Regions from separate parts of the Homo sapiens genome. Here region 2 is linked to region 1. The links come from fine-mapping of genetic effects on gene expression. Tissue or cell type: lymphoblastoid cells. Region 1 holds a variant in brackets; the other region holds the start of a gene. All regions are shown on one strand. Distances are between the middles of the regions.

Region 1 (5,381 bases):
TAGCAGAAACTGAAGTGCCGTTTATAATCTGGCCTGAGAAGTCACAGGATCTCACTTCTGCCTATCCTGTCAAGTCACATGATTCAGCATGGCACGAGACTATAGGAGTGAATACCAGGAGGCAAGGATCACTGGGTCCATCGGGAGAGGTTGGTGCTGTTACAGTTCACTGTTTTTAAAAAGCAAGCCTTTGAGGTTCCAAAACCTTGTATTTTTATACACTACTTCAACATTTAAAGGACTTGAAAAAACTCATTAAAGCTTTCTACTTTTCTAAGACATTTGAAGAAAGTATGAATTTCTTTTTAGTGACTTATATGGTTTGAATGTGTCCCCCAAAGTTCATGTGTTGGAAACTTGATCCCCAATGTGGTAACGTTGGGAGGTGGGACATTCAAGAGGTAAGTGGGACTTGAGCTCTGCCCTCATGAGTGGACTACTATTGTTATTGAATGAGGGGGTTTGTTATCATGAGAGCGAGTTCCTTATAAAAGGACAAGTTTGGCCTCTCTTGTTCTCTCTCACCCTTTCTTGCCCTACCACCATAGAATGATGTAGCAAAAAGGCCGTCGCCAGATGCCAGCCCCTCAATTTTGGACTCCCAGCCTCCAGAACCATGAGCCAGTGAATTCTGTTCATTATAAATTATTACCCAGTCTGTGGTATTCTATTATAGCAGCACAAAACAGACTAAGACAGTGACAGAATAAATGAAAAGAATAATAAAATGACTACTGCCCCCTTCACTATGTATTTAATAACAAGTTACTGGTTTTGTTTTACTATCTATTTAGTTGAGAATGTGCAGCACTCAAGCTCTTTGAATGTCAAAGTGGGATTAATGCCAAGTGCAGACAAAGCTGGGAGGAGTTTGAACAAGTATTTGGAAGCAAGTCCCCAGACAGGATTTGCAGCCCATGTCTCTTTTGAGACAATGACATATGCAATTCTTCTACCAAAAATGATCTCACTTGTTAACAGTTGATTGTTCAGGGGTCTGGAAAGGATACTGTATTATTCTGGCAGCCAGAGTAAACTTGGGGCAGGCTGTAGCCATGTGTAACCCTTATCGTCTTAGGGCTCAAAAACTAAGGAAGGCAAATATATTTGTAAAGTTGCTGAAGACAAGAGTTATCTGTCTGGATTTTTTAAGTCATAATCATTCTGTACAAGGTGAAAGGAAGAACACCTTCTCCCAATTATTTCAGATAAGACAGTTGAATTTCTACTACAATGACTAAAACTAATTACGTGAATAAATAAATAGATCAATCCATCAATAAATTAACTAAGGAGCCTGAAGAAAGTATTAATTTCTTTTTAGTGACTCCTCTGGCTTGAATGTGTCCTCCAAAGTTCATGTGTTGGAAACTTGATCCCCAATGTGAGAAGCCTTAAGATTTACCTAGAAAAATGCCTGTTTGGAAACACAGAAAGAAAATAATTAGAAGGGAGAAAATGGAGCCAAACAAACGATGTTAGTACAAGTAGGAGTGAAATTTAAATAAAAATGAGAACTCTAAATTCACTCCAAAAAATCAATTCAGGAGAAATTATTTCAGAAGGTAAAACACAGAGTATGGTTCTTCTGCTCCTTTGACATCAAAATAATAAGGGAAACTGTTGCTTTCTGGCTCAAAGCTATAGAACACAAAGGCAATTTGTTATCTAATACTTGACAACTGATATATAGCTTAGGGGAAGCAACACTAAATCTCAGATACTCTATTACAAAGAAGAGAGAGAAAAGCTTCAAAATCTGTTTTGCCTCAGGGCAGAAATCGTTTCACCCTCAGTCCATTAAATCACATTGACTATGATATCAAAGTGAAAACTCATTAGGGCATTTTATGCTTTCATGCTTGAGCCCTAGTGTTACCAATGCACCCAAGAGAAACCTTCCTTAAGAAACTCAAAACAGCTGGCACCACATTTCAGGGAAACAAGGCAGCTGGCCTACAGCTGGAGAGTATCAGCTGAATAGCCAAGACTGGAGAGGGATGAGGGAGTCAGCCAAAGAGCAGTATTTTCTCGAGATAATTCTGATCTAGCAGAAGGATGTGCTTTTTTATTTATTAGTTATAGCTTGGAAAGGGAAGCGTTTGATTTTAGAAACTAAACCCCTAGTGTAAGTCAAAGAGTTACTAAGGGGAAGACTCCTTGAAAAAGAAAGTTTTTGCCTTCTTGATTTTGACTTTTCTGTAGCATATAAACTCAAACTCAGGAGACAAGTGATTTTCAGTCTCCCATATCTCTACTTCCTTTGACTTTTGTTTTGCTCCTAAAGTGTCAGCAAGGAGGGAGGTAGCCCCAACCAGCTTCATGTTACAAGGACCTTTCATGGCACTCATGCTTTTGGCCTCTGAAGGCATTGCCAATGTTTAGTATTTCTATATAATGACACTACTGTGAAGTAAAGCCTTTCCATAGGAGGAGCTATCACTTCAGTGTGATAATCCACTAGCTTGGTGAGACTTGAATTCCAACTGGCAGGTTCTTCTAACCTCCAAAGTGCAAATGCAGGCTGCTTTCCTTACACAGCAGACTGAGCAAAAAACACCAGTAACTTTTGCAAATAACAAACACACATATCGTTTCCCATCACAATGGCAAATGTCAAACTGCTGTTTTTGCTTTTTCCAAAAGTGCGTGAGG[TG/T]GGGGGGGGGGGCGGTGCCGGAAGCATTCTAGGGAAGACTTGCACTTACTTATTTTGCATATATGATAAAATTAAATCTAACCAAATACCTGCAACACGTACACTTATGCTGCAAATATTCCACTCCTAGTGGAGTCAACAGCAATAGATTTCCTAGTTTTCAGACCTGGAACTATCTCCTCTGACATAGTTCTGACATAATTCTCTGGGCTTTTTTTCTTCTCATCACAGCCTTTTTTTGCTTCTGTTGTTCATGAAAAAAGATAGCATTTTCACTCAGGTTAGAGGGCAAATAAGTTTTTACAATTTTTATATAGATATGAATCATCAGTCTAATCACCAAGGATTTGAGACATGGATAAGTCAAAACTACAGAAGAAGTCAAATCTAAGTAAAAATAAAGGAAAAAAGCTCAAAATGCCATCTTAAATAATGTGGCAATAGCGTGAGTTGTTTCATTTTTCATGGCATTAGTGGTGGAACTTCAAATACATAGCATGTGGTGGCTAGAAAAGTCTTGAAAGATTAGCCTATGCAACCCTCATTGTACAGGTAGGAGGGCAAGGCAAGGCAAAGAATTCAAGAAAATTTGAAAATACAGTGGTACATGACATAGACAATGCAAAAGAGCAGTTAAGAAATCAGATATTACTGGTACTGGAATGCTCTGTATGGAATGTTGCTGAATACCTTTCAGCTTTTTTCTTTTTCTTTTTCTTTTTTTTTTTTGACAGAGTGTTACTCTGTCGCCCAGGCTGGAGTGCAGTGGCATGATCTCGGCTCACTGCAACCTTCATCTCCTGGGTTCAAGTGATTCTCCTGCCTCAGCCTCCCGAGTAGCTGAGATTACAGGTGCCCATCACCACACCCGGCTAATTTTTGTATTTTAGTAGAGATGGGGTTTCACCATGTTGGTCAGATTGGTCTCAAACTCTTGACCTTGGTGTTCTGCCTGCCTTGGCCTCCCAAAGTTCTGGGTTTACAGGCGTGAGCCACCACACCCAGCCTCAGCTTTTTTTTTTTTTTTTTTCTGAGCAGAGATAAAAATTAGGCTCCGTTCTCTAAACATACAAGTATCAGGCAACACAGAGACAGAGATACAGCTCAAGGGTTTGTTGGATGATTGGACCAAGCTGACCTGTTATCAAAACTGGCTTCTACATATCCAACATACTGACAATCCATGCATAGACAACTGATAGTTCTACTACTGCTGTTATTTTGATAAGATGCATGGGAAAATGAGGTCTTGGGCCTCACAAGAAGATTATCAGTAGCAAAGTCTGGCCAATGGGCTTGGAGGTTCCATGCTTTCCAGAGGGACACTTAATAATCTGCCTCTCATAGGGCAAGGAGAGTTCAGCAAATATTAGGGAGTTACTGCCCTTTCCACTTTAGACAAACACCAGCAGTTCCCCTTTAGTTCAATGGTATTCGCACAGGCGTTATGAAAGCTGTTAAGATTCAGAACCATTGTCAGAGGACTTGGCAGAATGTAACCTAATCTTTTCTGACTGAGAGACAGAAAACTGGCCCAAAAGTGGGGCTATAACCTTCAGTCACCTGCTGGCATTGCTGCCATCTGATGCCTAAGAAATGAGGATCCAGTGTGTCTTTGATGCCCGTCAAAGCTTTGAAGCTGGGTCAAGACCAGGGGACAAAGGCAGCACTGTTTATGCAAATCTGGAAACAAAAGAAGCTAATCTCCAAAGCCATCAGAAGTAACATCAGAAATTCAATACCCAGAGAGGATTAGAGGCCCTAGACCAGTATGAAATAGGAAACCTAAAAGCAAAGCTGGGCAACACACCAAAACACATACTGTAGGAAGGAATCCTGAGCTGGCCAGAGCCTGGCTAGATGTGCTCAGAAGTCTTGATATATGCAGCTCCCTTAGTCAAGAGGCAACCATCTGTGTGCCAAAGGAAGGACCTCCTGGGCAGCTGCTGCTTCTCTACCTGGTGCACACAGCTCCTTCATAAGAAGGTCTAATATATGCCATTGCAAGGCTAGCTCTCATGTTGCCACTTTCCTTGGGAGTTCAGTCATCATCAAGCACGTGCCTTCCCAAGGAGACAACACTCTTAGCAAACACCTTTCGCACAGTATAAAACAGGATAAAATACCACGAGCTTCCTAGAAAAGGATTTTTTAAAGCCATCCCCCAGAGATCTAAAGTTGGGCTGAGGGTCCAGGAAGCATCGATTATGCAGTTATGTGAACATTCTTCAGATATGGTTATCCCCATGAAGAGGAAAGTGTTAGGTCAGGAAAGGACTCAGAGAACATCTCATCTAGAGATTTTTAAGCAAGACTGCATATTACCACCCTTTGGGAAGTTTTCAAAATACGTCAATTGCCCTGGATCATCAAATGATTCCAATAAGTGGCTGCATTTGAAAAGCACAATTTTAGCACATTTCCCTTATGTTACAGGAGAAACTAAGTGACTTGCTCAAAGCAGCCTAGCATGAGCAATGCTTCCAAGACCTTTCACAGGACAACACAGATAGCGTATTTGCACACTAGGGAAAAATGAAAGACGCTGCTTTTGGCTAGAGGAAACTGTCCTGGAGACCCCACTGCCACCAGCCTCACTTCATCTCCAGGTGATTGTTATTTTCTTGGTGGGATGTGCTAAGCTGTGGTATGCAGTTCACATTTTTGAGAAGGATAAAAGATACAAAAATAAAGTGGATGCATAAACTTAAGAACTTTATTGTAG
Region 2 (5,381 bases), 28 kb after region 1:
ACCAGACACTGAAACTCTCCTCTGTTCTCTAGTGGATTTCACTCTAGATTGTCACAATAGGTATTTTGATTCTGTACTTTAAATACTGGGTTGTCTAAGTGTTCCCAAATCCTTTGTGTTCATTCTTAGCCATTCACAATCACCAAGACCTATTTAAAAATTTACATTAACAGGGAAGCTAACAGACACTCCCTTTTCATTCTTCAACTCTTTTGAAAAGCACGTAATACTCATTCTTGAATGTATCATGCTTTTTCTAAGCAACAGTATTTAATCTATTTGCCAAAGGATGGCATTTATCTGTTGCTTTTTTGGTTTATGGTTCTTTCCATACCCCCAATTATTTTTTCTTGAACATAAGCTGAAATTCTTCCCCTGCAGATGTTTGAGGCTGGTTCATATAGTCCCTAATCCCATTGGATATCCTTACTGATTTATAAAAGTTTCCCTCTACTCAGATTAGCATCAAAATACTCTTAATGCTTTTAAAAATGCCATCATATGAACTGATTTGGATCTTTAGGAGTCAGAGAGATTTATTCACTTCCAATCACTTGAATTCGTGTCAGTGTTTCATGCTTCAATGACCCAATTAATTTCAGTGCCATTTTCTTCTTTCGGGCTTAGCAGCTGCTTTGTGGTGGCAAAGGTTCATTCAAATGTAATGTATTTGAGGGCAACATATGAATCTTCATGTGTGGCTTTACATTTCATTCAATAATAGATGCCCTTCTTTTCCCTGTGTATGATGTGTTATTTCTTTTGATGCATTCAAGCTTTTCTCTTTATTTTTTTGACTTTCAATAGTTTTATTACAATGTAGACTTCTTTGTGTTTATTTTAGTTGCTATGTATTTAGCATTTTGTACTAGTAAATGTGTTTTTCATCAAATTTGGGGAAATTCTGGCCACCACTCTTTCTTCAAAAATTTTTTCTGTCCCTTTTTTTTTCTACTTCTGTTGTTTACATGCATGTTGGATTGTCTGACATGTAGCAAATCTCTGTTGGTCTACTCACTTTTTAAAGATAATTTTTCTCTTTGTTGTTTACTTTTAATAATTTCTATTGCTCTATCTTCAAGTTCCCTACTTTTTCTTTTGTAATTTTTTTTGGCTGTTAAATTCACCCAGTGAATTTTTTATTTCTAAAATTATAATTTTCAATTTTCAGAATTTCCATTTGGTTTTAAAAATCTTTTTTTTTCTTTTTCTTTGCTGAGATTTTCTATTTGTCTCCTGAGATTTTCATTCATTGAAAACATGTTTTACTTCATTGAGGATAGTTATAATAGTCACTTTAAAATCCTTATCTGTCAGTTTCAATATCTGATTCATCTCAGGGTTGATCTCTAGAGTATGCGATCCATTTCCTTGAATTTCATATGTCAGATAGTTTTGGATAGTACTCTGGACTTTGTGAGTGTTAAGTGGAGAGTCTGGATTCTATTATTCTTCTCTGATGAGTGTTATTTCCTTTGTATTAGTAGGTAATTTTCCCGGCTAGATTTTAACTGAAAACTCTCTCCCTTTTGGAGACAGCTCTGGTCTCAGTTCAGATCTTTTGTTTTTAACTGAGCTGCTGTGATTCTGTTTTGGGTGGTTCAGGATCTCTCAGAGATGTGGGTTGACAGTTTGGGGATCCACTCTCTGACTCCTTCCTTGGGATTTCTTAATCTCTTCAGAATTCAAAATTTTCTGTCTTCACTTTTCTGCTTCCCCAGACAAGAATAACTGATAAGTTTTATACATGCATCCCTGGTACTGCTGAGCCTGACTTCTGGACTGCACTTTGCCCCAAGCTAAATGCCAAAGAGAGGAGAATTTTCTTGTGGAGTTCTTGATCTTCAAGCAAGCTTGCCCTTCCTACCAGTCTGCTGTTCACATTCCAGTATATTCAGCTTTTTGTATTGTGTCCAAGTGTAGTTCCTGATCTTCAAGCAAGCTTGCCCTTCCTACCAGTCCACTATTCACATTCCAGTATATTCAGCTTTTTGCATTGTGTCCAAATTGTTTTCTGCTGGGGGATGGTCCACTAGGGTCTTAGTCTATCATGGTTGAAAACAGAAGTTATGTCCTGCCTGGGACTTTGGATTTTGAGTCACCCTTGTCCTGGTCAATGCGATAGCCTCCTAACCAGTCTCTGTTTGTGTCCTTGCTCCCTCCAGTCTATCCTCAACATATCAGTCAGAGTGATCCTATGAAAACGTCCAGGAGCCTCCAATAGCTTCCCATTTCACTCACAGTAAATTAAAAAATACTTAAAATGTGCTACTCTGCCTGTTTGAAACTCCTCATCCTTGGCTTCCAGATCACATGCTTATGCTAGTTTGTATCCTACCTTTCTGAACACTCGTTCAGCAACTCGTGTTTCCTCTAATCCTGAAACGTGGGTCCACCCTGAAAGTATGGTTCTACTTTAAAGTTCTATGTCAGGGCACTGAGTAAGGCCTTTCCCGTCCCCAGCAATCAGAAACCAGGACCCCACTGCTGAAGGCAAAGAGGACGTATGTATCCCCCAACTTTCTCAGAGAGTTATCGGCAGCACTGACTTAAAGAGGATTAAGAGCTTCAGGGCGCAGGCTACTCTTTAATATTTTTCACGTTAGAATTTGCTCAGATTTGAATAAACGCAGAGCGAAACTAGAGAGCGTTCGCGCAGGTTCTAGCTACCTTGGTCAGAAGGAGGGGCTGATGCAACTTTCCTCCCAGTTTCTGAGCCCTCTCGCACTGCAGCTGCGAGCCTCGGGGAAGCGGAACCCACAGGCGCGCGCGCCGCTGCTTCTGGCCGGGCGCGGGTCGTGGTGCACCACGGGAGCGCCGCACCGGCCGGCATGGAGGAGCGCGGCGATTCCGAGCCGACCCCCGGCTGCAGCGGCCTGGGTCCGGGCGGTGTTCGCGGCTTTGGCGACGGCGGTGGAGCTCCTTCGTGGGCCCCTGAGGACGCCTGGATGGGCACTCACCCTAAGGTCAGGAGGCGCGAGAGGAGCAGGGCGCCGTCCAGGCCCCTAACCCAGGCAGAACACTCCCAGGCAGCTCTCTTTCTTTCTTCCTCAGTGGGAGACTGAGGACGCGCGCCACCCTCACCGAGGGGGACCGGTGTGCACAACTGCCAGCCTCAGGCAGCATCGGTTTTGTTTGTTTAAACAAGTTGCACTATCTCAATCCCCCAGCCAAAGCCATTTTGGAACTGAGAGCCAGACAGTAACTCCGCCCCTCTCAAGCCGGAGATCCCTAATAAGCGCTCCACTAGTTTTGCTGTCTAGGTAAATCCCCTTTGGGGGATAAATTTATTTAATCCTCACGGTAACCATGCAAGACAATTTGTGGGCGATGGATAAGATCTAGGGGTCCATAGTGATAAAGATTTAAGCACAGTCACGTTTACACTTAGCCTTGGGCCCAGAATGCATCTTTATTTTGAAAAGGTGCAGATTCCTAATATTTCAGATTTCTTCGAAAGTTTGAATAGGTTCTTGCTCAAAGCAGAGCTACTCACATTTTGCGTGTATTTTTCTAGATTAGCAGCAGGCGAGATCAAGATAGTCCTCTGCTTACTTCTGCTTGAGACATTACTGCCTTGTACAAGTACGGTTCCAAGCAGTGAATAGACAGTGAATGGAGATGTGGGTTTTGTAAGAATCTCAAAAACTAGTCTCTACGGTACTTTAACAGAATTGCACTCTTCTGCTAGAGAGCAATAATTCATAATCATCTAAAAACAGCCAAGAAAAAATTTGAAGGTATAAGTTTGAAGAGTTAACCTTTTTCAGCTTCTCTTGCTTAATTTTATCTTCCTACTCTGTCCCCTTCATCCTCCCAAAAGGTGAGAAAAAGAAACAATAGCATGGAAATATTATTTAGTGCCCTTTTAGGGAAACAATAGCATGGAGAGGCAGCATATTGGTTAGGCGCATGAACTCAAAATCAGACTCAGTTTAAATCCTGATTCTGTCACTTATCAACCTTGTGATTTGGGACAAGTTGCTTGATCTTATTATGCCTTAGTTTCCTCACCTGAAAAATGGGGATATTAATAGTCCATACTTACTTATACGGTTGTTACAGGATTAAATTAATGAATATTTGTAAGCCATTCAACATACAGAAAGCACTATATAAGTACTTAATAAGCGAAACACCAGTAACAACTTTTTAAGACTTTATCTAGATTTGGTGGTGTTATTCAGTTTATATACTTGTAGATTGTTTTCTTTTTCAAGTTAATGGCTGTATACACCTTGACCATCAAATCTCCCCTTTTGATTTCTCTTCTTGAAGGATCAAATTAATTTTTAAAAGAAAAAGAACAAGTAATAAAATAATAGGGGGTATTTGTTTTTCCAATTTCACCTTTCTGTTAATTTAAAAATTATGTAGTTTCATCCAGTAAAATGGTACCAGATTTATTATCCCCAAACACACTTTTATTTTATTATTCTCCTGCTTAGAAATCCTCAGTGTTTCCATACTGATAAAATCACATGTTTAGCTTGACCACCAAAGCCTTGTAACCTGGCTCAAAATTATGTTTTGGGTGTTATTTTCAAAACATGTTTGAAGTCGACAACTAATTAACCCCTGTCCTCCTGAACCTGTACAGTTACAGTGAAGCTGATGGGAGAATGTGACTTTAGACCTGTCCCCATGCAGGTCTGCTAATAATTCAACTCAGCATTAGCCCTGCATATCCACCTAGTCGCTGGCATAGCTGGGCAGCCTCAGAATTCTCCTGCAGGTGTAGGCCCCTGAAAAGTATTCCCCTTATGCTGACCAGTAGTCTGAAAGAAGCAGCTTTCTCTAGTTCCTTGTCAATTCCTTTTAAAAAATCTACTCTTAAAGTGAGAAAGAGTGGGTAGAGAGGCTAGGACTGATACTCTAGCAGATTCTCTCCATATACAAATAAGAGGCTAGGGAAATACACAGTACCCACTAACATGTCCCATCACAAGTTTTATTAAAAAGGTTTCTCTATTGCTGGCAGATAGGTTTCTTTACAGGCCCTTGAATGTATGTGGCTTAATCCCACCTTTGTGTAATTACCTGCAGTATTACTCTACTTCTCCACTTACTTAAATCATAATGTTCTTCAGTGCTCAACTTGTATCCCATCCCACCTCTGCTATAAATCTTTCACCAGTCCCTCTGAGTAGAGCTCTTCTGACCTGCTGTGTCATGTTTTTTATTCCATTTACATGGTTTTTAATCACTTACAGTCATATATTGTTATTTGCCTAACAATTTTAAGTGTGCATGTATTTAACAATTGCAAGTTCTTTAGAGACAGAGATAAGATCTTATATTGCCTTTTAACTTCCACTATACCTAGAAGAATTTTATAGATTATATATGCTTGATGACCACTTGATGATTGGAAGAAAATA

Direction of the effects. Alleles are on the strand shown, and positions count from the first base shown. SD is a standard deviation of normalised expression in the study named.
For the expression in lymphoblastoid cells of the gene that starts at base 2,806 in region 2, allele TG in region 1 goes with a higher level than allele T (small effect, 0.21 SD a copy in TwinsUK).

Evidence for each region. PIP is the estimated chance that this variant, and not a neighbour inherited with it, causes the effect.
Region 2: TSEN15 starts here. The variant in region 1 is fine-mapped to the expression of TSEN15 in lymphoblastoid cells (TwinsUK, PIP 0.95).

What each region holds. Positions count from the first base shown.
Region 1 is chr1:184,020,988-184,026,368 of GRCh38, forward strand. All of the region lies in intron 1 of COLGALT2 (collagen beta(1-O)galactosyltransferase 2), which reads right to left. Among named protein-coding and RNA genes, the nearest start is that of COLGALT2, 14 kb to the right of the region's middle. RefSeq lists an enhancer at 3,874-4,613. The variant TG/T (reference allele first, on the strand shown) is at 2,656.
Region 2 is chr1:184,048,925-184,054,305 of GRCh38, forward strand. TSEN15 (tRNA splicing endonuclease subunit 15) reads left to right here and starts at 2,806. Exons shown (of 5, transcript NM_052965.4): 1 at 2,806-2,966. The coding sequence starts at 2,832. RefSeq lists enhancers at 1,725-2,660, 2,413-2,522, 2,583-2,712, 2,591-2,885.